Regions from separate parts of the Homo sapiens genome. Here all the other regions are linked to region 3. The links come from fine-mapping of genetic effects on gene expression. A gene starts in region 3. Each other region holds a variant in brackets. All regions are shown on one strand. Distances are between the middles of the regions.

Region 1 (8,172 bases), 57 kb before region 3:
GCAAACCCCAGCATCACGAGAGGGTGCAGGCATGGGGCTGGGTACAGGCAAGGCCAGTTCGCGTGCTGCCCTGGGCCGGATCGTCCCCTCAAGCATCACCCCTCCTGGGCAGCAGTTGAACATCTAACCCCAAGGGGCCCTCTGCCCCCAGGCCCAGCCATGAGTCCACTCAGTGCCTGGGAATGGGCCCTGCGCAGCCATCTCTGTCCTCTGGCTTTGCCTCTGCCTCTCCTCCATGTCTGACCTGGCATATGCTGTTCAGCTTAGATGTCACCCCCTGGAAGTCTTTTCTGATTGCCCTCCAGGCTCCACTGTCATCATCTTGCCGAAAGCTGATCCTCCTTGGGACCCCTGCGCCCAGCAAAGGGCTGGACATGGTGGGCGAGGGATGGCGGTGTTGGTTAATGACAGGCTGACCCTCTGCTGCTTCTCCGGCCTCACCCCCAACTCTCTGCCCCTCTCTCTGATGTCACCCTCCAGCCGCAGACCCTTGGACTTGCCATTCCCTCTTTCTCCAGATCCTCACACAGCCCATCCCCCTGCCACTCATCTCTGCCCAGACACCCAACCTCAAGGAGACCCCCAGGGGTTCCCTCACATCACCCTGGAGTTCGCTTGTTAATTTATTTTCCTTCTTGACTGGTAGTCTGCCCCCACCTCCATTGTCCTCACCGGAAAGGTCTTGTCTCTCTTTTGCCCTCCTCTGTCCCCAAAACTGGGCTGGGTTTATGGTGGGCGCTCCACAAACATCTTTGTGCGAAGGGACTTCTTTTATCCCTCGTCTTTGTCTCTCCCTGTGTTGGAGTCTGCGTGTGTGCACGATGCTCACATGTGCATCTGTGTCTGGCATCTCTTGCCAGGTCCTTGTGTTTCTGTGTGTCTTGGTCTCTGTATGTGCCTGTCCCTTTCTCACTTGCTGTCTTTCCTCATAGTCCCTGCCTGCCCACACTGTCTGGGCCTTTGCCCTTCTGCTCTGGCCCCACCCTACCTTAGCAGCTCCACCCTGCACCCTGTGGCCCCAGATAAGGGGCTGCCCAGGCCCTCTTCTGGAGGAGGGGGAGGTGGGCAGAAGGAAGACCCTGAGGGAGCTGGGGGAGGAGGAAGAGGAGATGGGGAGGCAGGTGAGCCTGACCAAGCAGCCTGCTCCCTTTCTCCCTCCCCTTCCCCCTCCCCCAGGCAGCCAGATAAGCTGGTGGTGGTATGGACCCGTCGGAACCGACGCATCTGCTCCAAGGTGGGGAAGGATGGCAACTGGGGATCCAGGTTAGGGATGGGGGCCGGTGGGAGGCTGATGGGGGCTGATGGGGGAGTGGAGTGAGGTTCAAGCACAGATCAGAATCCACAGAGGGGAGGGGAAGATGGTGTCAAGGTTGGTGATAGGGGGTGCAGGTGGGAGGGAAGAGTTAAGATGGGGGGAGGACTCAGATTGTCCCTTGTAGGCCCACAGCTGGCAGCCGGGCATCCAGAACCCATACCGGGGCACCGTGGTGTGGATGGTACCTGAGAATGTGGACATCTCTGTGACCCTCTACAGGGTGAGTCTCTAGCCCTCCAGCATGGATGGCAATTGCAACACAGGCAGTTGCAACAATTGCAACACAGGTCTCCTGGTAGGTTGTTCATCCAGATAGAAGAGGATGCGGGGGGTGAGGCCAAGAATTAGGGGGGCCTGCTCAGCATCACTGGCCCAGGAGGTCTCCTTGGAGGAGGCAGCATTTACCCAACACATGCAGCATGAGAGGCAGCTGGGACCAGAACTTGGGGTGCATCCCAGGAGGAGGTAGCAACCACCGCGTGCACCTGTAATCCCAGCTACTTGGGAGGCTGAGGCACGAGAATTGCTTGAACCTGGGAGGCAGAGGTTGCAGTGAGCCGAGATCGCACCCCTGCACTCCAGCCTCGACGACAGAGGAAGACTCCGTCTCAAAAAAAAAAAAAAAGCCACCACTACCAAGCACCTCCTGAGCCAGACAAGCTCTGCTCCCTTTGCTGCTGCCCCAACAGTCCTGTACTCACCAGCACCCTTCTTCCCAGGACCCCCACGTGGACCAGTATGAGGCCAAAGAGTGGACATTTATTATTGAAAATGTGAGTGTCTGGAGTGGGCTCAGGTCTGGAATCTTGGGGACCCTGGGACAGCACTGATGCCCCTTCTCCTGGTCTCTCCCCTGGCCCACAGGAGTCTAAGGGGCAGCGGAAGGTGCTGGCCACGGCCGAGGTGGACCTGGCCCGCCATGCAGGGCCCGTGCCTGTCCAAGTCCCAGTGAGGCTGCGGCTGAAGCCAAAGTCAGTGAAGGTGGTGCAGGCTGAGCTGAGCCTCACTCTTTCCGGGGTGCTGCTGCGGGAGGGCCGTGCCACGTGAGTGCCTACCTGCCCTCCTTGATCCTGGCCTGTGACCTCTGACTCCACCCTCACCTTTAACCTCTGCCTCCCAGGGACGATGACATGCAGAGTCTCGCAAGCCTCATGAGTGTGAAGCCTAGTGATGTGGGCAACTTGGATGACTTTGCTGAGAGTGATGAAGATGAGGCTCATGGCCCAGGAGCCCCGGAGGCCCGGGCTCGAGTCCCCCAGCCAGGTGGGCTCACAGCCTGCTGTGGATCGAGACTGCCAAGACCTGGGGAGGGAGGGTTACCCGGGCCACCAGCCACTTGCTGTGCCCGCCCTGTGATGGGAACTCATTACTGCCCAGGCAGTCCCAACCAACCCAGCAGCCTCAATTGTCCCAACCTGGCTGCTGGTCCCACGATAGCCTTGGTCTTCAGCTGAGTCCTGGAGGATGGGTTCCCAATGTCTCGCTGGGCTCCTGGGTCCTCTCCTCATCCCTTTGTGGTGCTTGCCAGGCCCGTACCTGACCCAGGACAGCTGGGTCAGAAGCCCGGCTCCTGATCCCTCACCACCAGCCCTCCTGGGCCAGCTGGGGCTTCCTCATTCCTCCCTGCTGCTTGTCCAGGCTTTTTCTCTGTCCACTGTTGAGGTTCTCTCTCTCTTTCTCTCCACATCTGTGGGCCTGTCTCTTCTCGCAGGCCGGGGCGGTGCCCTGAGGCCAGGGCGTTTCCCAGGTAGGACCTGCACTGTAGTTGGGGGAGGGGGTCAGGCCTGTGGGGCCCTGCCCTGGGCTGACTCTGCCCTTCTCCCCTCTCCTACCATTCCCAGATCCCTCTCGAGAGCTGAAGACGCTTTGTGAGGAGGAGGAGGAAGGCCAAGGACGACCCCAGCAGGCAGGTGAGACCCAGGCTGGGGTTGGGGGTGGAGACTGGACCCCAGGTCACTGGGCCCAGGCCACAGTGTCCCCCTCTTTCTTCTCAGTTGCCAGCCCTTCTAATGCTGAGGATACCAGCCCAGCCCCTGTGAGTGCTCCTGCACCCCCAGCCAGAACCTCCCGAGGCCAGGGGTCAGAACGAGCTAATGAAGCGGGGGGCCAGGTAGGCCCTGAGGCCCCAAGGCCCCCGGAAACCTCACCAGAGATGAGGTGAGCTTTGGAACCAGCCTCACCCCCCATTGCCCCCTGATAGGAGCTGCAGTCCTCACCCCCACCAACCTGCCTCCAGGGCCCCAACAGTCTGAAGGGTGGCGGATGGTGCTGAGAGTTGGGGCCAAAGCAGCCCCCCAACTCCCCCTCCTGCTCTCTTCTCAGGTCTTCAAGGCAGCCAGCCCAGGACACGGCCCCCACCCCAGCCCCTCGGCTCC[G/A]GAAAGGCTCTGATGCCCTCCGGCCCCCAGTCCCCCAGGGGGAAGATGAGGTCCCCAAAGCCTCAGGGGCTCCTCCAGCAGGATTGGGCTCTGCTAGGGAGACCCAGGCCCAGGCATGCCCTCAGGAAGGGACAGAAGCCCATGGAGCTAGGCTGGGCCCGAGCATTGAGGATAAAGGTTCTGGAGACCCTTTTGGAAGGCAGAGACTCAAGGCTGAAGAGATGGACACTGAGGACAGGCCAGAGGCCAGTGGGGTGGACACTGAGCCAAGGTCAGGAGGCAGAGAGGCAAACACTAAGAGGTCAGGAGTCAGAGCTGGGGAGGCTGAAGAGAGTTCAGCAGTTTGTCAAGTGGATGCTGAGCAGAGGTCAAAGGTGAGACATGTGGACACTAAGGGACCAGAGGCGACAGGGGTGATGCCTGAGGCAAGATGCAGGGGGACCCCTGAGGCTCCTCCAAGGGGCTCTCAGGGGAGGCTGGGAGTCAGGACCAGGGATGAGGCTCCCTCAGGCCTGAGCCTGCCCCCAGCGGAGCCTGCAGGGCACTCTGGGCAACTTGGTGACCTCGAGGGGGCCAGGGCTGCTGCAGGCCAGGAGAGAGAGGGTGCAGAAGTGAGGGGTGGAGCACCTGGTATTGAGGGGACAGGCCTGGAGCAGGGCCCTTCTGTTGGAGCAATAAGCACCAGGCCCCAGGTGAGCAGCTGGCAGGGGGCCCTGTTATCAACTGCCCAGGGGGCAATATCCAGGGGTCTGGGAGGCTGGGAGGCAGAAGCTGGGGGTTCAGGGGACCTGGAAACAGAGACTGAGGTGGTAGGGTTGGAGGTGCTGGGAACCCAGGAGAAAGAAGTTGAGGGGTCAGGGTTCCCAGAGACTAGGACACTAGAAATTGAGATATTGGGGGCCTTGGAGAAAGAAGCAGCAAGATCAAGGGTCCTGGAGTCAGAGGTTGCTGGGACAGCACAGTGTGAGGGACTGGAGACCCAGGAAACAGAGGTGGGGGTCATAGAGACCCCAGGGACAGAGACTGAGGTATTGGGGACCCAGAAAACAGAAGCTGGGGGTTCAGGAGTTTTGCAGACAAGAACTACGATAGCAGAGACTGAGGTACTGGTGACCCAGGAGATATCTGGGGATTTAGGGCCACTGAAGATAGAAGATACAATACAGTCTGAGATGCTGGGGACCCAGGAGACAGAGGTGGAAGCTTCTAGGGTACCAGAGTCAGAGGCTGAGGGGACAGAAGCTAAAATATTAGGGACCCAGGAGATAACAGCTAGGGATTCAGGGGTCAGAGAGATAGAAGCAGAGATAGCAGAGTCTGACATATTGGTAGCCCAGGAGATAGAGGTGGGACTTTTGGGGGTTCTGGGAATAGAGACTGGGGCAGCAGAAGGTGCGATATTGGGGACCCAAGAGATAGCATCTAGGGATTCAGGGGTCCCAGGGTTAGAAGCTGATACAACAGGGATCCAGGTGAAAGAGGTTGGGGGTTCAGAGGTTCCAGAGATAGCGACTGGGACAGCAGAAACTGAGATATTGGGGACCCAAGAGATAGCATCTAGGAGTTCAGGGGTCCCAGGGCTAGAATCTGAGGTAGCTGGGGCCCAGGAGACAGAGGTCGGGGGTTCAGGGATCTCAGGGCCCGAGGCTGGAATGGCAGAGGCCCGAGTACTGATGACCCGTAAGACAGAAATTATAGTTCCAGAGGCTGAGAAGGAAGAGGCTCAGACTTCGGGGGTCCAGGAAGCAGAGACTAGAGTTGGGAGTGCTCTCAAATATGAGGCTTTAAGGGCCCCAGTCACTCAGCCAAGAGTTTTAGGATCCCAGGAAGCAAAAGCAGAGATTTCAGGAGTACAAGGGTCAGAGACTCAAGTTCTGAGAGTCCAGGAGGCAGAGGCTGGGGTTTGGGGGATGTCAGAGGGCAAATCTGGGGCTTGGGGGGCCCAGGAAGCAGAGATGAAGGTTTTAGAGTCTCCAGAGAACAAATCTGGTACTTTTAAGGCCCAGGAAGCGGAGGCTGGGGTCTTGGGAAATGAGAAGGGGAAAGAAGCTGAGGGAAGCCTCACAGAGGCCAGCCTGCCTGAAGCACAGGTGGCCAGTGGGGCAGGGGCTGGGGCGCCCAGGGCCTCTTCCCCAGAGAAGGCTGAAGAGGACAGGAGGCTGCCGGGCAGCCAGGTAGGGATGGGGGCCGCCGAGGGCCCAGTCTGCTGCTTCCCACTAACCTGGGGCTGAGCGAACGGCGGCTCTGCATGGACCCACCTGGTGGAATGGGATCGGGTGGGGTGGGGGGCTCAGCTTGAAGGAGCCCCCTCATCCCCTCCTCTCTCAGGATGCCCTGGCTCTCTTACCCCATCTTCCCTGGGCCGCATGGAGCTGGACACCTCTAAGCTGATTTTCTGGGCTGACTTTGAGGTGTGGCTGCTGGTGACCTCTGATCTTGTCTGGGGGCCACTGACCTTTTAGGTGACCTTGGCAGATAACCCTGGATCTAGAAACCCTTTTACCTGGCCCCAAGGCTCTAGCCAGTGGTCTCTGGTGACCCCTGCAAGCTCAGAGATGGGGCTGTTGTGTGCCAGGCATGAGCTTCCCCAAGAGGCAGAGGGCATACATCCCATTTATACATTCCCTAAGCCCACCCCTGTGTCCTCAGGCACCACCTGCCCTGGTCAGCTCCAGCCAGTCCCTGCTGGAGTGGTGCCAGGAAGTCACCACTGGCTACCGTGGCGTCCGCATCACCAACTTCACCACATCCTGGCGCAACGGCTTGGCCTTCTGTGCCATCCTGCACCGATTCTACCCAGACAAGATGTGAGCTGCCAGAGGGGTGGGAACGAATGGGGGAGCCATCAGGGAGGGCAGTGTGGACCCAGCCTCTGACCAGCACACTCTCTGCAGTGACTATGCCTCGCTAGACCCACTCAACATCAAGCAGAACAACAAGCAGGTGAGATGGGGTGGGGGACTGCCTGGAGGGAAGGAGGGTCTGGAGAGCCAGGCTCTCAGTGTCAGATTTGGAGAAAGTGGACTGCCGGGCCCAGCAGTGGCTTCTGGAAGTTCTGCCACTTTTTACCCCTTTGGTCATTAAATTGTTTGTTTTCCTTATTTTCGTTTGTTTGTTTTAAAGCGTTTTTCCTCCCTTAGATGGTTTTTCCAAAACCACCCTTTGGTAACGGGGTGGACGGTGTGCCGTTGCTAAGCAACGCGAGGGCGGGCCTTGTTGCTGGATTTCCCTCGCTAGGAGGGGGCGGTGTTGCTAGGCAAAACCCGGGGTGCCAATCCCGGGGACCCCCTCCGTGGGGCGGCACTGCAGCGTTGCCGGGTGGCGCGGGCCACCGCCGCCGCTGACCCCGAGTGCACCCTTCCCCTAGGCCTTCGATGGCTTCGCGGCTCTGGGCGTGTCGCGGCTGCTGGAGCCCGCGGACATGGTGCTACTGTCGGTGCCCGACAAGCTCATCGTCATGACGTACCTGTGCCAGATCCGCGCCTTCTGCACCGGGCAGGAGCTGCAGCTGGTACAACTGGAGGGCGGCGGCGGCGCCGGCACGTACCGCGTGGGCAGCGCCCAGCCCAGCCCGCCCGACGACCTGGACGCCGGAGGCCTGGCGCAGCGGCTGCGCGGTCACGGGGCCGAGGGGCCCCAGGAGCCCAAGGAGGCCGCAGACCGCGCAGACGGGGCGGCCCCGGGGGTGGCCTCCAGGAACGCGGTCGCGGGCCGCGCCTCCAAGGACGGCGGGGCCGAGGCCCCCCGAGAGTCGCGACCCGCGGAGGTCCCGGCCGAGGGGCTGGTGAACGGGGCGGGGGCACCGGGCGGCGGCGGCGTGAGGCTGCGACGGCCCTCGGTCAACGGGGAGCCCGGGTCGGTGCCCCCGCCCCGCGCGCACGGCTCCTTCTCCCACGTGCGCGACGCGGACCTGCTCAAGAAGAGGCGCTCGCGGCTGCGGAACAGCAGCTCGTTCTCGATGGACGATCCGGACGCGGGAGCCATGGGAGCTGCGGCTGCAGTGAGTGTCAAGGTCCTTCTTTCTTCCCCCGCCGCAGCGCGGGGTCCCGGGAAGATGGGCAGAGAACGGGCGAGCCCCCAAGGGGCCCCAAGGACAGAGCTGGCGCGAGGGTGACGGTTTCAGAGTGGCGGGGCTCGGCTGGACCCAGGAGGGGCTATCTGATCAGAGGGACCCTGGTGCTGTGGAAGAGTCCTCTGGTGTGGTAGTGAGCTCCTCATTAGGGGACGCATTTGAGCCAAGGCCCACCAGGCAGGGTCCCCAGCTTTGCGGCCAGCCTGGGATAAGTGCTGAGGGTTTTTAGTGCTTGGCACTTGGTGTGGGGAATCAGGCTGCAGAAGTTCCCGGAGCATCCACGTTCCTGGCACTCTGCCCAGTGCTTGGTAGGCTGGAAGGTGGGTTTGGGCATTTCTTTCCCTGCAGGTGGCTCATCGTTAACCAGCAGCCACCCTGCCCCATGAGCTGGGTGCAGACTATCTGTACTC
Region 2 (8,172 bases), 63 kb after region 3:
AGAGCCTCTCTGGATCATTCCAGCTTTCTAGATCGGAGACCCATTGGAAATGTGGTCCCAGATAAGGTAGCCACATGAAGAATAGGGCCATGGGGCTGGCTGGGGTGACCCCACATAAGAAGCCTTGGCTGGTCCAGGGTTTGGAGAGGCCATATGTCCAGGGCAGTCCTAGAGCTTAATCTGGCCAAATTCCAGTGAAAAGGAAAAAAAAAAAATCCTGCTTCCCCATCACCAAACACTAAATAAGCAGACAGCGAGACAGGCCTCCCCACCTCCTCCCAAACTCCAGAGCTCCCTCCCTGTCTGCTGCCTCCTTTAGCCAGCGCCCGTGGGCATTTCTGACCAAACTCACATTCTGCCTTCTCCAGCCTGAAATCTGGCTTATCTATTCTCTCTGCCTCTCTCTTTTTTTTTTTTTTTTTTTTTTTTGAGACAGAGTCTCGCTCTTTCGCCCAGGCCGGACTGCAGTGGCGCGATCTCGGCTCACTGCAAGCTCCGCCTCCCGGGTTCACACCATTCTCTTGCCTCAGCCTCTCGAGTAGCTGAGACTACAGGCGCCCGCCGCCGCGCACGGCTATTTTTGTGTTTTTAGTAGAGACGGAGTTTCGCTGTGTTAGCCAGGATGGTCTCGATCTCCTGACCTCGTGATCCGCCCGCCTCGGCCACCCAAAGTGCTGGGATTACAGGCGTGAACCACCGCGCCCGGCCATGGCTTACCTATTCTCAAGACATATTCCTCCCCACTCTCAGACTCTCCCCCTATCTCAGGCCTCTTTTACCTCCCAAATCTCTCTCCACCCCTGCCAGGGTCCAAAATCAAGCATCAGCGCTGTTCCCCGCCCGACTTCCACCCTCCCTCACTCCCCTCAACCCGATTCTAACAGACACCCAAACAGGAGAACACAGTGTGAGATTACATCACAGCTCACACACACACACACACAGACACACACAGACGCACAAACACACAGACACACACACACACACACACAGACACACACACACACACACACAGATTTCCTGTTGTCCTGTGACCCTCCCACTCCAGTCCCTGACTCAGGACACAGTAGAACAAAAGAACTCACGATGCCGGTTTCAGTGTCATAAACAATAGATATGGGCCGGCACAGTGGCTCATGCCTGTAATCTCGGCACTTTGGGAGGCCGAGGCGGGTGGATGGCTCGAGGCCAGGAGTTCCAGACCCACCTAGGCAGCATGGCCAAACTCTGTCTCTATAAAAAATACAAAGATTAGCCAGGTGTGGTGACATGTACCTTTGGTCCCAGATACTTAGGAGGCTGAGCGGGGAGGATCACCTGAGCCCTGAAGGTTGAGGCTGCAGTGAGCCATGATCACACCACTGCACTCCAGCCTGGGAGACAGAGTGAGATGCTGTCTAAAAAACAGAACAAAACAAAAACTCCCCCAAACCCAAAAAGATTTGGAAGAATAAATGCTCAGATATTGAGCCAGTCACCTTACCACTGCCCACCAAGGTGATTATGAAAGGATGAGGAAAGGGGAAGAGAGGAACAGCAGAGGTTGTAGAAAGGAGCAGAGGAGTTGGGGTGTCCCCAGGAAGAGCCCATGTCCCAGCCCCCACCACCTCACTGGCCAATGAGAGTCCTCACACCAAATGTCAAAAACCCTGGACCATCTGGGGGGTGGCCAACAGTGAATCCCAAAGACCAAGTCAGGGGCATAGAACAACTTTTTGCAGGGTCAATACAACAGAGACCTCCCACAAGCGAGTGTCCTGCTTTAAACAATTGCCCAAATATAGTTAGTGGGGATTCAAAGCAAACACTACAAAAGAAATATATATTTCAGAGTGGAAAATAAAATGAAATAAAATGGCCAACAGAAAAATTAAATGGCATGAGAGGAGAAGGGACCAAGAGAAGGGGCAACAAGGATGCAATTGGTCAGGCACGCTTTGAGGGACTTTGAATTGACTATTTAGCCAACAGCCTTATTTCCTGGATCACCTGATATGGAGGAGAGGAGGCAAAGGGGACAGTCACCTGTCCGCAAGAGCCAAAATGGTGCTGGCCAGTCTCTAACATGGGGCCCAGTGAAGGTCTCCTCCCCAGATTTCCCCAGCTTGGGCGAGCTTGGCTGCCAAAGGGGGATCAGCAGGTATACTAGCAACATGCCAGCTGGAATATTGGGTCCCACAGAAGGCAGTGCTGCTATGGCTGCTCGTCCATCTGCTTGGCTCCACGGGTTGCCAGGAAAGACAGTGGCTCTTTTTTTTTTTGAGACAGAGTCTCATTCTGTTGCCCAGGCTAGAGTGCAGCGGTGCAATCTCGGCTCACTGCAACCTCCACCTCGTGGGTTGAAGTGATTCTCCTGCCTCAGCCTCCTGAGTAGCTGGGATTATAGTTGTGCACCATCATGTCAGGATAATTTTTGTATTTTTAGTAGAGATGGGGTTTCACTATGTTGGCCAGGCTGGTCTCAAACTCCTGACCTCAGGTGATCCACTGGCCTTGGCCTCCCAAAGTGCCGGGATTACAGGAGTGAGCCACTGCGCTCGGCCAAGACAGTGGCTCTTAAAAATGAACCTTTGGGCTAGTGCTACACCTCTGCAGTGTTAGAAGCTCTGCAGCTTTGATTGCTTGTAGCACTGATCACCTGCTGTCTCTTGCTGATCACCGTCTTGACATCTCTCGCCACCTCTCTCCAACTGCCACCTCCTGCCATCTCTCTGTTGTCTCACTGTCTTGCCAGTTGCTCTCACCACTTCTCTCTAATTGCTATCTATTGCTATCTTTCTGTCCTGTCTCACCATCCCGCCAATTGCTGACCAACAATTGCCAATTTTCTCCTTTCTAGTGTCTTGCTGCCTGTCTGCTAATTGCCAGTCGCTGCCATCTCTGTTGTCTTTGTGGTCTTCATGGTCACCAGGTGATGCAGAACAGGTGAGCCCCAAAATTGGGGCTTAGCCTGGGAGGGTTCTTGGCTTCACACAGGAAGGAATTCAAGAGCAAGACAGTGGTATTAGAGAGCAGTTTTTTAATTGAATGGTACTGCTCTTTGTGGAGCAGGGATAACTCAGGCAGTGCACCTGCAGCAGGCAACCTATGGGCTCTTGGCAACGGTATTTATATTCGCTTATACTCATTTTTAATTATATGCAAATAGAAGGGTGAGTTAATGCAAATTGATGGAGGGGTTATTTAGAACCTTTTAGGAAAGGGGTGGTGACTTCTGGGTCATTGGTGTGGAAAGATGTGGTAACTTCTGGGTCTTTGCCATGGCATTTGTAAACTGTCATTACACTGGTGGGAGTGTCTTATGCTAAGGAACAATGAGGGCAGCTAGGGATTGCTTTTGTCACCATCTGCTGATTCTTTCCAAACAAGACCTGCTGGTCTCCTCTCTTGATTTTAACACTATTAATTCTCTGATTTCATGTGTATGGGATGTCTTCCCATTCGTTTGTGTCCTCTTCAATTTCTTTCATCAGTGTTTTGTAGTTTTCATTGTAGAGATAGTTCACCTTCTTGGTTAGATTTATTCCTAGACTTTTTTTTTTTTTTTTTTTTTTTTTTTTTTTTTTTTTTTTTGCAGCAAGATAAATGGGCTTCTTCATTTCTTTCTGAGCTAGCTCATTATTGGTATGTAGAAATGCTATTGATTTTTGTATGTTGATTTTGTATCCTGCAACTTTACTGAATTTATTATTAATTCTAGGAGTTTTTTGGTGGAGTCTTTAGGTTTTCCTAAATATATGATCATATCATCAGCAAGGAGGGATAGTTTGACTTTGTCTTTTTCAATTTGGATGCCACTTATTTCTTTTTCTTGCCTGATTTCGCTGGCTAGGATTTCCATCACTGTATTGAATAGGGGTGATGAAAGTGGGCATTCTTGTCTTATTCCAGATCTTAGAGAAAAGACTTTCAGATTTTCCCCATTCAGTGTGATGTTAGCTATGGGTTTGTCATGTCAATAAATTGTTATGAAGTAAGTTCTTTTTTTTTTTTTTTGAGATGGAGTCTCGCTGTCGCCCAGGCTGGAGTGCAGTGGCGCGATCTCGGCTCACTGCAGGCTCCGTCCCCCGGGGTTCACGCCATACTCCTGCCTCAGCCTCCCGAGTAGCTGGGACTACAGG[C/T]GCCCGCTACCTCGCCCGGCTAATTTTTTGTATTTTTAGTAGAGACGGGGTTTCACTGTGTTAGCCAGGATGGTCTCCATCTCCTGACCTCGTGATCCACCCGCCTCAGCCTCCCAAAGTGCTGGGATTACAGGCGTGAGCCACCGTGCCTGGCCGAAGTAAGTTTTTTCTATTCCTAGTTTGTTTAGAGGTTTTATCATGAAAGGATATGGAATTTTATTAAATGCAATTTAATAATTGTTTCAATTGAGATAATCATATGGTTTTTGTCTGTGTCTCCTGGGCTCAAGTGATCCTCTTGCATCAGCCTCTTGAGTAGTTAGAACTACAGGTGTATGGCACCACACACGGCTAATATCTTATTTTATTTTTGTAGAGATGGGGTCTTGCTACATTGCCCAGGCCATTCTCAAATTCCTGCCTCAAGTTATCCTCCTGTCTCAGCCTCCCAAAGTGCTGGGATTACAGGTGTGAGCCATTGAATTTCTGTATACCATTTAGAATCAGCTTGTCAATTTCTACCAATCCAGTCTGCTGAAATTTTGATTGGTATTCTTGTTTGAATCTATAAAACTGAATCTCAATTCTCAAAATGAGAAAGGCTTCTTGGAAGCAGTACATATTTTAATCAAATGTATATCTAGAATATGTCATTAACTGTTGCCATGGAGCAATGTGATATAATCTGAACAACTGTTAAAATCAAACCCTTAATTCCAAAAAACGAAAGATAAGCTGTGGTGAGAATGTGAAGAAATTGGAGCCCTAGTGCCTTGCTGGTGAGCATGCAAGAAGGTACAGCCACTGTGGAAAACAGCCTGGCAATTCTTCAAAACTTTAAACACGGAACTATCCTATGATCAAGCAATTCCAATTCTAGGTATATATCCAAAAGAACTGGGCCGGGCCTGGTGGCTCATGCCTGTAATTCCAGCACTTTGGGAGGCCGAGGCGGTGGATCACGAGGTCAGGAGTTCAAGACCAGCCTGACCAACATGGTGAAACCTCATCTCTAGTAAAATACAAAAATCAGCCCAGCGTGGTGGTGCGCGCCTGTAATCCCAGCTCCTCAGGAGGCTGAGGCAGGAGAATCACTTGAACCTGGGAGACGGAGGTTGCAGTGAGCCAAGATCATGCCATTGCACTCCAGCCTGGGCCATAGAGCGAGACTCCATCTCAAAAACAAAACAAAACAAACAAACAAAACAAAACAAAACCTGAAGGCAAGAACTTCAACAGATATTTGTACACCAATGTTGATAGCAACATTATTTACAATAGCCAAAATGTGGAAACAATTCAAATGTCTATCCACAGATGAACGGAGAAACACGATGCAGTGTATACATACAAGGGAATATTCTGTGGCAATCTGAAGGAATGAAACTTTGGCATATGCTACAGCATCGATCAACCTATGTCACATTATGCCAAGTGACATAAGCCAGACACAGAGGGACACATATTGTGTGATTTTACTTATACGAAGTACCTAGAATAGGCAAATTAATAAAAACGAAAGTAGAATAGAGATTACCAGGGGCTGAGGGGAGGGGAATGGGAAGTTTTGCTTAATGGATACGGAATTTATGTTGGGGACAATGAAAAAATTCCAGAGCTGGAAAATGGTGATAGTTACATGACATTGTAGATGTGCTGAATGGCAGTGAATTGCACACTTAAAATCAGCCAGAGAGGCCAGGTGCGGTGGCTCATGCCTGTCTGAAAGGAATTTCTCCTTTCAGTTCTGTCAGTTTTTGCTTCATGCGTTTTGAATTATTGAATGCATACTGTTATGACTTTGATGTTTTCTTAATGAAATAACTCCTTTATAAAGATAAAATGTCTCTTTTAATTCTCAGTAGTATTCTTTGTTTCTCATATGGTGCTCACCCATCAAGTCAAATGACTGATGTATCTCCAGGTCATCCTGTCCTTGCCCTCCAGCTCCACCTTGGATGGGAGTCTACATCTCAAAAGTTCCTGAGATTATGTTCCCTACCGCCCTAGGCATGATGGATCTCAAATCAGAGATTAAGTTTAGTTATGGAGAAAATAAAGAAATAAAATTAAGAAAGTAAAAGTTCTCTGCTTTGTTGTGTTATGACTACTGGCTGGAGGCTGCATGCTCTTTAATGTCACAGACAAGTGCCACTCTGTTCCTCCCATGCTCCCTGCATGCCAGCTGGTCCCACAGTGTCTCTTTCTTTCTTGGCTTCCTTTTTTTTTGTGAGGCAGGGTCTCACTCTGTCACCCAAGCTGGAGTGCAGTGGCACGATCTCAGCTCACTGCAACCTCTGCCTCCCCGGTTCAAGTGATTCTCCTGCCTCAGCCTCCTGAGTAGCTGGGACTACAGGCATGTGCCATCACACCCAGCTATTTTTGTATTTTTAGTAGAGATGGGGTTTCACCATGTTGCCCAGGCTGGTCCTGAACTCCTGACCTCAAGTAATCCGCCTGCCTCAGCCTCCCAAAGTACTGGGATTATAGGTGTGAGCCACCATGCCCAGCCACATGTGGCATTTTAATTCGGCAGGAAAGGGTGGAATTATGTAATGAGAGGCGCTGCAGTCAGCTCACTCCCTATCTGGAAGAAAATGCACCTGGGCCTGTCTCTTACACTAGCCCACAAAACAAATTCCAGAAGAGATTTATTAAATAAAAAAAAAAACCATAATATGAATCTTGTAAAAAAAATGTAAAATATGAGAAGACCTTCTCAACCAAGACTGGAAACGCAGAAGTTATGAAATTTGACAATTTATTTATTTATTTATTTATTTTGAGACAGAGTCTTGCTCTGTCGCCCAGGCTGGAGTACAGTAGCCCAATCTCGGCTCACTGCAAGCTCCGCCTCCCAGGTTCACGCCATTCTCCTGCCTCAGCCTTCCGAGTAGCTGGGACTACAGGTGTCTGCCACAACGCCCAGCTAATTTTTTGTATTTTTTAGTAGAGACAGGGTTTCACCATGTTAGCCAGGATGGTCTCGATTTCCTGACCTCATGATCCGCCTGCCTCAGCCTCCCAAAGTGGTGGGATTACAGGCGTGAGCCACTGCGCCGGCCGAAATGTGACTATTTAAATGTATGCATGCCAAAAGAGGATGGAGACAAACTATAGGGACAAAGGAGAAACTCAGAAAAAATGTTTACACAGCTGAAGGCAATAGCAGCTTAATATCACCCCATAAAAGGGGTTTTTGCAAATCAAGAAGTGGACAACGCAACAGAAAAGTGGGCTAAACATACAGAGGAGCAATTCACATAAGAAAAGTTCCAGTGGCCAACAAACAAAAGAAAAGGTGCTGCTTAATCTGGCTAAAAGATTGGGGAATGCAAAGTAAAGTTATACTACTATACCCATCAGCTTGGCAAGAATTAAAAAGGCTTTGTGGCCAGGCATGGTGGCTCATGCCTATAATATTAGCACTTTGGGAGGCCAAAGCAGGAGCATTGCTCAAGCCAGGAGCTGGGCTACATGTTCTCAGGACCTCTTGAGACTGCGCCTCAGGACAAAAAAAAATACATCTATATCTATATCTATATATGATATCTATATGATATATAGATATAGATATATGATATGGTTATATATGTATGATATATATATATACTATATCTATCTATATATCCTATATATAATATATGGTTAGGCTTTGTATTCCCACCCAAATCTCATCTTGAATTGTAATCACCAGGTGGAGGTAATTGAATCATTGGGGCAGCTTCCCCCATGCTGTCCTCATGATAGTGAGTGATTTCTCATGAGAGCTGATGGTTTTATAAGAGGCTCTTTCCCCTTCGCTCGGCGCTTCTCCTTCCTGCTACCTCTTGAAGAAGGTGCCTTGCTTCCCCTTCACCCTCTGCCTTGATTGTAAGTTTCCTGAGGCCTCCCCAGCCATCCTGAACTGTGAGTCAATTAAACCTCTTTCCTTTATAAATTACCCAGTCTCAGGCTGTTCTTTATAGCAGCATGGAAATCGACTAATACTATATATATACTTATATATATAAGTTGTATGTATAATATACATATATATATGAGCTTTAAC
Region 3 (8,172 bases):
CCTCTTCCACGAAGAGCACTGTGGTCTCTGGCCACAGTGGCCACAGAAACTGCAGTGGCCCTTCCTGTTGGGGTACCTCTTCTCCCACGGGCAGGGCACTTCCTGGTCATGACCTTGCCTGCTCCTCAGTGCTCTGTGAGAGACATGGGCAGAGATTGGCCTCTTTGTCAAGATGGGGAAACTGAGGCTCAGCGTGAGGAAAGGCCTCTGCTTGGATCACTCTGAAGCCTTACCCCTGGGTCCTCGACACCCCTCTCTCCCCTCCCTGTTTTTCCTCCCACTTAGCCTGGAGCCCTTCCTCTACGGCCTGCACGCCCTGTTCAAGGGGGATTTTCGCATCACCTCCCCACGTGACGAGTGGGTCTTTGCCGACATGGACCTGCTTCACCGCGTTGTGGCGCCTGGGGTTCGCATGGCCCTCAAGCTTCACCAGGTTGGGGAGGGGTGTGCCCAGCAGCATGGGCAGGTGGGGGATGAAGCCTCTCTCCAGGGCAGGGGCCACTGACCCCTGTTCCCGTCTTCTCTACCAGGACCACTTCACGTCCCCAGATGAATATGAGGAGCCAGCAGCCCTATACGATGCCATTGCGGCCAACGAGGAGCGGCTGGTCATCTCACATGAGGGTGACCCAGCATGGCGCAGCGCCATCCTCAGCAACACGCCCTCCCTGCTGGCGCTGCGCCATGTCCTGGATGATGCCTCCGACGAGTACAAGATCATCATGCTCAACCGGCGCCACCTCAGCTTCCGAGTCATCAAGGTTGGGCCGGCCCCACCTGCCCTAAGCCCTGCCCCAAACCCCCTTGGGCCGGCCCCCTGACCCTGGCGTGTGGCTCTCAGGTGAACCGGGAGTGCGTGCGCGGCCTGTGGGCCGGGCAGCAGCAGGAGCTGGTGTTCCTGCGCAACCGCAACCCCGAGCGTGGCAGCATCCAGAACGCCAAGCAGGCGCTTCGCAACATGATCAACTCCTCCTGTGACCAGCCGCTGGGCTACCCCATCTACGTGTCGCCTCTCACCACCTCGCTGGCTGGCAGCCACCCCCAGCTACGGGCACTGTGGGGTGGCCCCATCAGCCTGGGTGCCATTGCCCACTGGCTCCTGCGCACCTGGGAGAGGTGAGGCCTCGGGAAGGGGTGACGTGTGGCGCGGGAGGAAGCTGAGGTGCAGTACGTCCCTCCTGGGTCTCAGAGGGAGGACGTGCTGGAGCCAGGGCTTGAATCCCGAGAGATGACCCCCTCCCAGAGCTGACCTGCCCCTCCTAGATGTCACCTTACCCCCAGAGCTGACAGTGGCCTTTAGTCATCAAGCACTGTTGACAACGCACCCTCAAAAGACTCTGCAAAGTAGGTGGCAGCTTCTTAGAGGGGAGGATCCTGGGGCTCAGAGGTGTTAGATGACTTGTCCTGGGGCTGAGGACTCATGCTTGTGAGGCCTCTGGCCTCAGCCGTGTCCCTCCTGATCCCTTTTCTACCTCTCCACCCCCAGGCTTCACAAGGGCTGTGGCGCCGGCTGCAATAGTGGCGGGAACGTGGATGATTCAGACTGTAGTGGGGGCGGTGGCCTGACCTCCCTCAGCAATAACCCCCCCGTGGCACACCCCACACCTGAGAACACGGCAGGTGAGCAGGCGAGGCTGGGCTGAACCCGTGGGTGAGGAGTGCAGCCCAGCTGAGGCCTCTGCTGTCTTATCTGTCTCCTACAGGCAATGGTGACCAACCCCTCCCACCAGGCCCTGGCTGGGGGCCGCGGTCCTCCCTGAGTGGCTCTGGTGATGGGCGGCCCCCACCTCTGCTGCAGTGGCCTCCCCCTCGGCTCCCTGGACCACCCCCTGCATCGCCTATCCCCACAGAGGGTCCCCGGACCTCACGGCCCCCTGGCCCGGGTCTCCTCAGTTCTGAGGGCCCCAGTGGAAAGTGGAGCCTGGGGGGCCGGAAGGGGCTGGGAGGATCTGACGGGGAGCCAGCCTCAGGGAGCCCCAAAGGAGGTACCCCCAAATCTCAGGTAAGGCACCTGTGGGAGGGTTGGGTCCCAGAAGGCTAAGGCCTGCTCACCCGCCAACCTCTCCCCCCTCCCCCAGGCGCCTCTAGACCTCAGCCTCAGCCTCAGCCTCAGCCTCAGCCCCGATGTCAGCACTGAGGCCTCACCCCCCAGAGCTTCCCAGGACATTCCTTGCTTGGACAGCAGTGCCCCTGAGAGTGGCACACCTATGGGTGCCCTGGGCGACTGGCCTGCCCCTATTGAGGAGCGTGAGAGCCCGGCAGCCCAGCCCCTGCTGGAACACCAGTACTGAGCTACCTGGCGCCCACTGGACCACCTCCTAGGATTCAGTAACGGACCTGCTCTGCTGCCTCTCTGCTGGACCACAGAACTGAGTGGCTTTGGCCTACATGTCTGAACCCTGACCTTTGGCTGCCTTGGCCAGAGTACCAAAACTGAGTGACCCAGACCTCTGACCTTGACCCCTGATCTCTCTCATCCCCAGTCCAGGGCCTGGGCTCCCCAGATGGAGGCAGTCAGCCTCCCAGCCAGGCCCTAAGAGCCAAACCATGGGCTGGTCCCACTTGGAGCCTGTGGCCAGGACCACCTCAGCCCCTGGGCCTGCACTGCCTGCAGGTGTGGCCCCCTTGGCCTGGACCTGGGGCCTGAATTGTGGGAAGGGTGGTTTCTTTCTTTCCTTTTTTTTCTTTTCTTTTTTTTTTTTTTTTTTGTGCTTCGGAGACATCAGAATTAATAACACTATTTTTGATTTTGGTTGGCAGTTTCTTTTTCTACCTGGGAATGGGTACATGATAGTACAGGCGGCTAAGTTGGGATGGACAAGCACGCAGAGGGGTGAAGGATGTGGGGCTGAAGTCTAGTAGAGATCAAGGGCAGACCAAGGTGGGGTTCAGGTAGAACCGGGTCCTCTTCACCGCATGGCTGCTCCCTTTTCAAGCCTTTATCTGAAGGGTATTGTCTGCCATTTCCCACCATATGGTCAGACTTCCAGGTCTGGTGGCTCCTACATTTATCAGGCTTGTTCTTGGCCAAAGCCTTTCTCTGCACCTCAGCTGCTCCAGGGCGTAAAGAGATGACACCTATCTAAGGTGTTTTTAGAATAAATGAGAGCGCGCTAGTGGAATGGTTGCCCAGGGCCCAGTGCTTAGCAAGTGCTCCATAAAATAGTGGCAGACTCTTGAGCACCTGCTGGCCGGGAGCTGGACGCTAGGTGGCCTCCGCTAGCCCTCCCGGTTGGTCTGGAAGGCAGGCACAAGTTTCTCAGGAGAGGAAATGGCCTTAGAATGAGCACTGCTCGGTGCTGACCTCCGCCAGGCCTGGAATCCCCGCTGCTGCGCTTCCCGCCGCAGACAGCTCCCGGCCGGCCCCGCCTCCCGGCATGGCCCCGCCTCCCAGCATGGCCCCGCCCCCAGGCGGAGCCGGCGCCGGGAGCGGTAGCGGGAGAGCGGCAGCGGGACCCCAGCGCGGGCGGCGGCGGCTGGGCGGGAGCCCCAGAGGTACTGGCGGGAGCAGGGGACGGGAGGCACTACTGTCGGGCCCGACAGGGGAGAGGTGGCCTAGCCGTGGGCCCGGGTGATGTGTATGGGAGTGGGGTCCTCGCCACGTTCGCCGCCAGCACCCTCCCAACTTCCCTCCGGGCTCCAGCTCAGTCCCGAGTCAATATGTCCAGCCCCCTGTCTCTGACCAGCCGTTCCTACTCTCTCTGTGTGACGGCTTAGCCTGGCCAGCCAGCCGGTGAGTGGAAGCGGCGGCTCCTGACTCCTGGTGGCGGCACTGTGACCCCCTCCCCCTCAACACTGCAAGTGTGTGCGGGGCTCCCCCTTATTCTGAGGCTCCTCTTCTTCTTAGGCGGCCTCCACCCCAGTCCCTGGCCTGGCCTGGGAGGAAACATCTGTCGCGCCCCCTGGCAGCCGAAATGGGGTCATGACCTCCAGATGTGCTGGGAAGTGGCCAGCTCCTCCTCCTGGGGCAGCCAGGCCTTCCGGATCTGTGGGGGCGGGGCCGGCCCTTTCCCCCCACCCCTAGTGACACAGGCCCGGAGGAATGTCCTAGCCTCAATGGACCCTGTGTGAAGCTTCAGGGTGGGGGGCAGAGCCCGAGAACACCCCTCAAGGCAGCGCCAGAGCCTGGCACTGGGCCACAGCAAGAGGCAGCGCACAGGCTGGGTGCACACATGCACAGATCTCACTTCCAAGCGTGCAGAGCTCAGCCCACAAGGAGCGGGGCTTGCACAGACCCCCTCCCTCATGCCCTCCTACTCCTTCACACACTATAGCCCAGGCCCGAGCGCTGAATGTGCCCAGAGCTTGGCTCATGGAGCCAGGGGCTACACCCGTCACACACACACATAGCTAGCGACACTCACCTCATTCTTCTCAGTCTCTCAGCAGCCTTGGGAGGGGACAGAAATAATTAAACCCAATTTTTTTCTTTGTTTTTTTGGAGACAGTCTCACTCTGTCCCGCAGGCTGGAGTTCAGTGGCGCGATCTCGGCTCACTGCAACCTCTGCCTCCCAGGTTTAAGCGATTCTCCTGCCTCAGCCTCCTGAGTGGCTGGGACTACAGGTGCGCACCACCACACCCGGCTAATTTTTATGTTTTTAGTAGAGACAGGGTTTCACCATGTTAGCTAGGCTGGTCTTGAACTCCTGACCTCAGGTGATCCCCCCGCCTTGGCCTCCCAAAGTGCTGGGATTACAGGCCACAGCCACCGCACCCGGCCAGTTAACCCCATTTTAGAGATGAGAAAACAGAGGCTCAAGGTCAGCATGGGAGTTTATTCAGGAGAAATCAAGGTAGAAGCACCTGGGCTGGGGAGCCGACTCTTGCTTGGTTCTGGAGGCCCCAGACGAAGGGTGTGTGGAGCCCCTCCTCCACCCCCCTCCGGCCCAGCCCCGCATGATGTTGCTGGATGCTGCATGAAGACCCACCATTAGATGCCTGTACCCCCAGTGGAGGTTCCCCAGCTCCCTGTCCTCACTGCCTACTCCATCCAGGGCTTGCCTGGGTGTGGCTTCCCTCAAGTTCTCACACCACCATTTGCACCTGCCTCTGGCGTCACGTTTCCGCACTTAGCAGGTCCCTGGGGCTTTGGGTGTCTCAATCTTGCATCCTGTGAGACCTTGAACCTCAGCCCAACACCCACCCCCCAAAACCTACGCACACAGACAGCAGTGGGCAGGTGCAGCCCTGCTTAGGGCCTGGAGATGGGCAGACCCAGGCTCACATCCTAGCTCTGACACGGAATTGCTTCAGGCAAGAGCATCTCCTCTGGACCTCATCTGACCATCTGTCACATGGGGTTCAGACCTCCCTGTCTGCATCAGTGAGACCAGGTAGGCAGAGGTCCCTATGGGTCCCTGTCATTGTGACTCCTCTTGCCCCCAAGCCTGGGCACAGTAGCCTGCAAGAAGGTGAGTTGGCCTGTCCTTCAGGGCAGGGTGACTGGGGTCCCATGACAGCTGCTGTGACCCCAGCACCTTCCTCAGGATGTGGGGGCCTGGCAGAGGGCTGGGCCCACAGTTGGGGCTACTTCCTGTGCTGAAGGAAGTCCTCTTGCCATTCCTGCTGCCCTGCCGCTGCCTCCCTGGGAACCCATGTGTCCTTGTGGTATTGAGGCCTTGAGGTCCAGGGCACTGAGATCAGACCTCTCTGGGTGATCAGCTCTCCAGGGACCCTGAAGGAAGTGGGAGGGGCAAGGAGGAAGGTCTCTGGGGACAGGACGTCCTCCCTTTGTTAAGTGGGCAGGACCCAGACACCAGTGGCCCCTGGGTTTCCCGTCCCAGCCAATACAAGTCATCTGTCCGGTTGGGCTAGGTCCTGGTGGGACCCTTACTCTGGGCCCAGGCCAAAGCTAAGGTGTGTGGGTGGCGACTGGGGGACCCTGGCAGTCCCAGGGCTGCCCAGGCTCCAGGACCCTCAGGACCAAGACCCAACAGCCCAGCCTCTAGCCTTGCCCAGCTAAGCTGGGGAGGGGGCTGGAAACTTTAGCCCTAGGCAGACAAGGAAGTGGCCTGGAAAGCGGAAGCAGCTTTGATGGTCTCGGAGGGGGCCGGAAGCCAACACGGGTGGTGGAGGACCAGGCTGGGGGCCTGGGTTCCTGTTTTCTGCCCAGGCCCCTCTGAGCAGCCCCCTCCTCCTTCAGGGCAGGAACTGCTGCCACAACCTCAGGCTGGGCACCAAACACCCGTGCCCGCCAATGCGGCCCAGCCCCCGGAGAGTCAGGCCCACAGAGCATGCCCATGTGGGCCGGCGGTGTGGGGAGCCCTCGGCGGGGCATGGCCCCTGCGTCCACAGATGACCTCTTTGCCCGCAAGCTGCGCCAGCCAGCAAGGCCCCCGCTGACACCGCACACCTTCGAGCCGAGGCCAGTCCGGGGCCCACTCCTGCGCAGCGGCAGCGATGCAGGCGAGGCCAGGCCCCCCACGCCAGCCAGCCCCCGTGCCCGTGCCCACAGCCACGAAGAGGCCAGCCGACCTGCAGCCACTTCCACCCGGCTCTTCACTGACCCGCTGGCACTGCTGGGGCTGCCAGCAGAGGAACCAGAGCCTGCCTTCCCACCAGTGCTTGAGCCTCGATGGTTTGCCCACTATGACGTGCAAAGCCTGCTCTTTGATTGGGCTCCGAGGTCTCAGGGGATGGGGAGCCACTCAGAGGCCAGCTCTGGGACCCTGGCTTCAGCCGAGGACCAGGCTGCCAGCTCGGACCTGCTGCATGGGGCACCTGGCTTTGTGTGTGAGCTCGGGGGTGAGGGTGAGCTAGGCCTGGGTGGACCAGCATCCCCACCTGTGCCCCCTGCACTGCCCAACGCGGCCGTGTCCATCCTGGAGGAGCCACAGAACCGAACCTCGGCCTACAGCCTGGAGCACGCAGACCTGGGTGCTGGCTACTACCGCAAATACTTCTATGGCAAAGGTGAGGAAAGGCAGTTCCAGGGAGTGGAGGAGGGGGGCTGAAGAAGAGGTCCCTGTCACCTGCAGTGCACACAGTAGGGCTCATGAACTGTCCATTTCCTGTAAAGTCCCTGGCCCTGGGAGGGCTCAAGAGCTGAGCTGGGGTCCTCCTGGACCTACTTTCAACCACCTTCTTAAGGCTAATCCCTGGCTCCTCACCCCCAGCCAGGGCTGGTCCCTCTGCCTCCGTATTGGTTCATCCTCCATCTGGTTCAACCTGCCAGGCTGGGGAGAGATTCCCTATGGGCTTTTCTGTGGGGTGAAAACTCAGGCCTCAAATCCCTGCATCCGTGAACCTTGTTCGCACCAGCACTGCGGAGAGAGGGCTCCAGGACATAGAAGGGAGAATGAGGGCGTGGTGGGTGGAGCCAAGGCAGGATTTAGGCCTGGGAGCTGGCCGCGTGGGTCTAGGTCTGGGTCTGGGTCCACCTCTGGGTCAGGGTTGAGATCAAGATATTGAGCTCGGGGCTACAGAGGGGCGGGACTTAGTCTAGGGTCAACATTTGGTGGTGAGATGAAGCCTAGGGCGGGGCTTAGTGATGCGCGTGGTCGAGCGGGGGCGGGGCTGCCAGAGGGCGGGACCAATCGTTTTCTTCGGCGCGGTCCCCCAGAACATCAGAACTTCTTCGGGATGGACGAGTCGCTGGGCCCGGTGGCAGTGAGCCTGCGGCGGGAGGAGAAGGAGGGCAGCGGAGGGGGCACCCTGCACAGCTACCGCGTCATCGTGCGGACCACGCAGGTGGGCCGGGATCGCGGGATCAGGACGTGGGTTGCCTCCCCGACACCTTGTATGCATCCTGAGTGCCCTTACACCCCTTCCTCAGCTCCGGACACTCCGTGGCACCATCTCGGAGGACGCGCTGCCGCCGGGGCCCCCACGGGGTCTGTCCCCAAGGAAACTTCTGGAGCACGTGGCGCCGCAGCTGAGCCCCAGCTGCCTGCGCCTGGGCTCAGCTTCACCCAAGGTACCACGGACGCTGCTCACACTGGATGAGCAAGTGGTGAGTGGCGGGCCGCGGAGCCCCCAGCCATACAGCTGGCCCCAGTCTGAACCCAGCCTGCCCAGCTCCCAAACCCCTAGCCTTGACCCTGATCCTGGGCTGGGTGGTGACCCCAGAAGAGCTGGCTTTTCAGAGACAGGGCATCAGAGTTCATCTGGAGCCTTGCGTCTCAAAGTGAGCTCTGTAGACCAGCAGTATCCACATCATGTAGAAATGCAGA

Evidence for each region. PIP is the estimated chance that this variant, and not a neighbour inherited with it, causes the effect. A credible set is the group of variants that fine-mapping cannot tell apart.
Region 1: its variant is the best candidate, but not a certain one, in a credible set for the expression of SIPA1 in monocytes after Pam3CSK4 (Quach 2016, PIP 0.86).
Region 2: its variant is the best candidate, but not a certain one, in a credible set for the expression of SIPA1 in blood mononuclear cells (TOPMed, PIP 0.88).

What each region holds. Positions count from the first base shown.
Region 1 is chr11:65,577,902-65,586,073 of GRCh38, forward strand. EHBP1L1 (EH domain binding protein 1 like 1) reads left to right here. Exons shown (of 19, transcript NM_001099409.3): 2 at 1,177-1,234; 3 at 1,440-1,535; 4 at 2,035-2,088; 5 at 2,180-2,358; 6 at 2,436-2,578; 7 at 3,157-3,225; 8 at 3,310-3,472; 9 at 3,638-5,864; 10 at 6,340-6,497; 11 at 6,585-6,633; 12 at 7,058-7,690. LOC124902692 (a long non-coding RNA gene) reads right to left here and starts at 3,180. Exons shown (of 2, transcript XR_007062731.1): 1 at 2,731-3,180; 2 at 2,055-2,617. The variant G/A (reference allele first, on the strand shown) is at 3,691.
Region 2 is chr11:65,697,329-65,705,500 of GRCh38, forward strand. No RefSeq gene overlaps it. Among named protein-coding and RNA genes, the nearest start is that of KAT5, 11 kb to the right of the region's middle. The variant C/T (reference allele first, on the strand shown) is at 4,122.
Region 3 is chr11:65,634,688-65,642,859 of GRCh38, forward strand. It overlaps SIPA1 (signal-induced proliferation-associated 1), which reads left to right and starts at 3,414. Exons shown (of 16, transcript NM_006747.4): 1 at 3,414-3,495; 2 at 6,144-6,913; 3 at 7,563-7,690; 4 at 7,776-7,952. The coding sequence starts at 6,235. PCNX3 (pecanex 3) reads left to right here. Exons shown (of 35, transcript NM_032223.4): 30 at 286-433; 31 at 531-761; 32 at 842-1,116; 33 at 1,487-1,620; 34 at 1,704-2,002; 35 at 2,079-2,752. The coding sequence ends at 2,291. It overlaps MIR4690 (microRNA 4690), which reads left to right and starts at 1,623; the gene lies at 1,623-1,682. RefSeq lists enhancers at 2,235-3,025, 3,977-4,046 and a silencer at 3,257-3,626.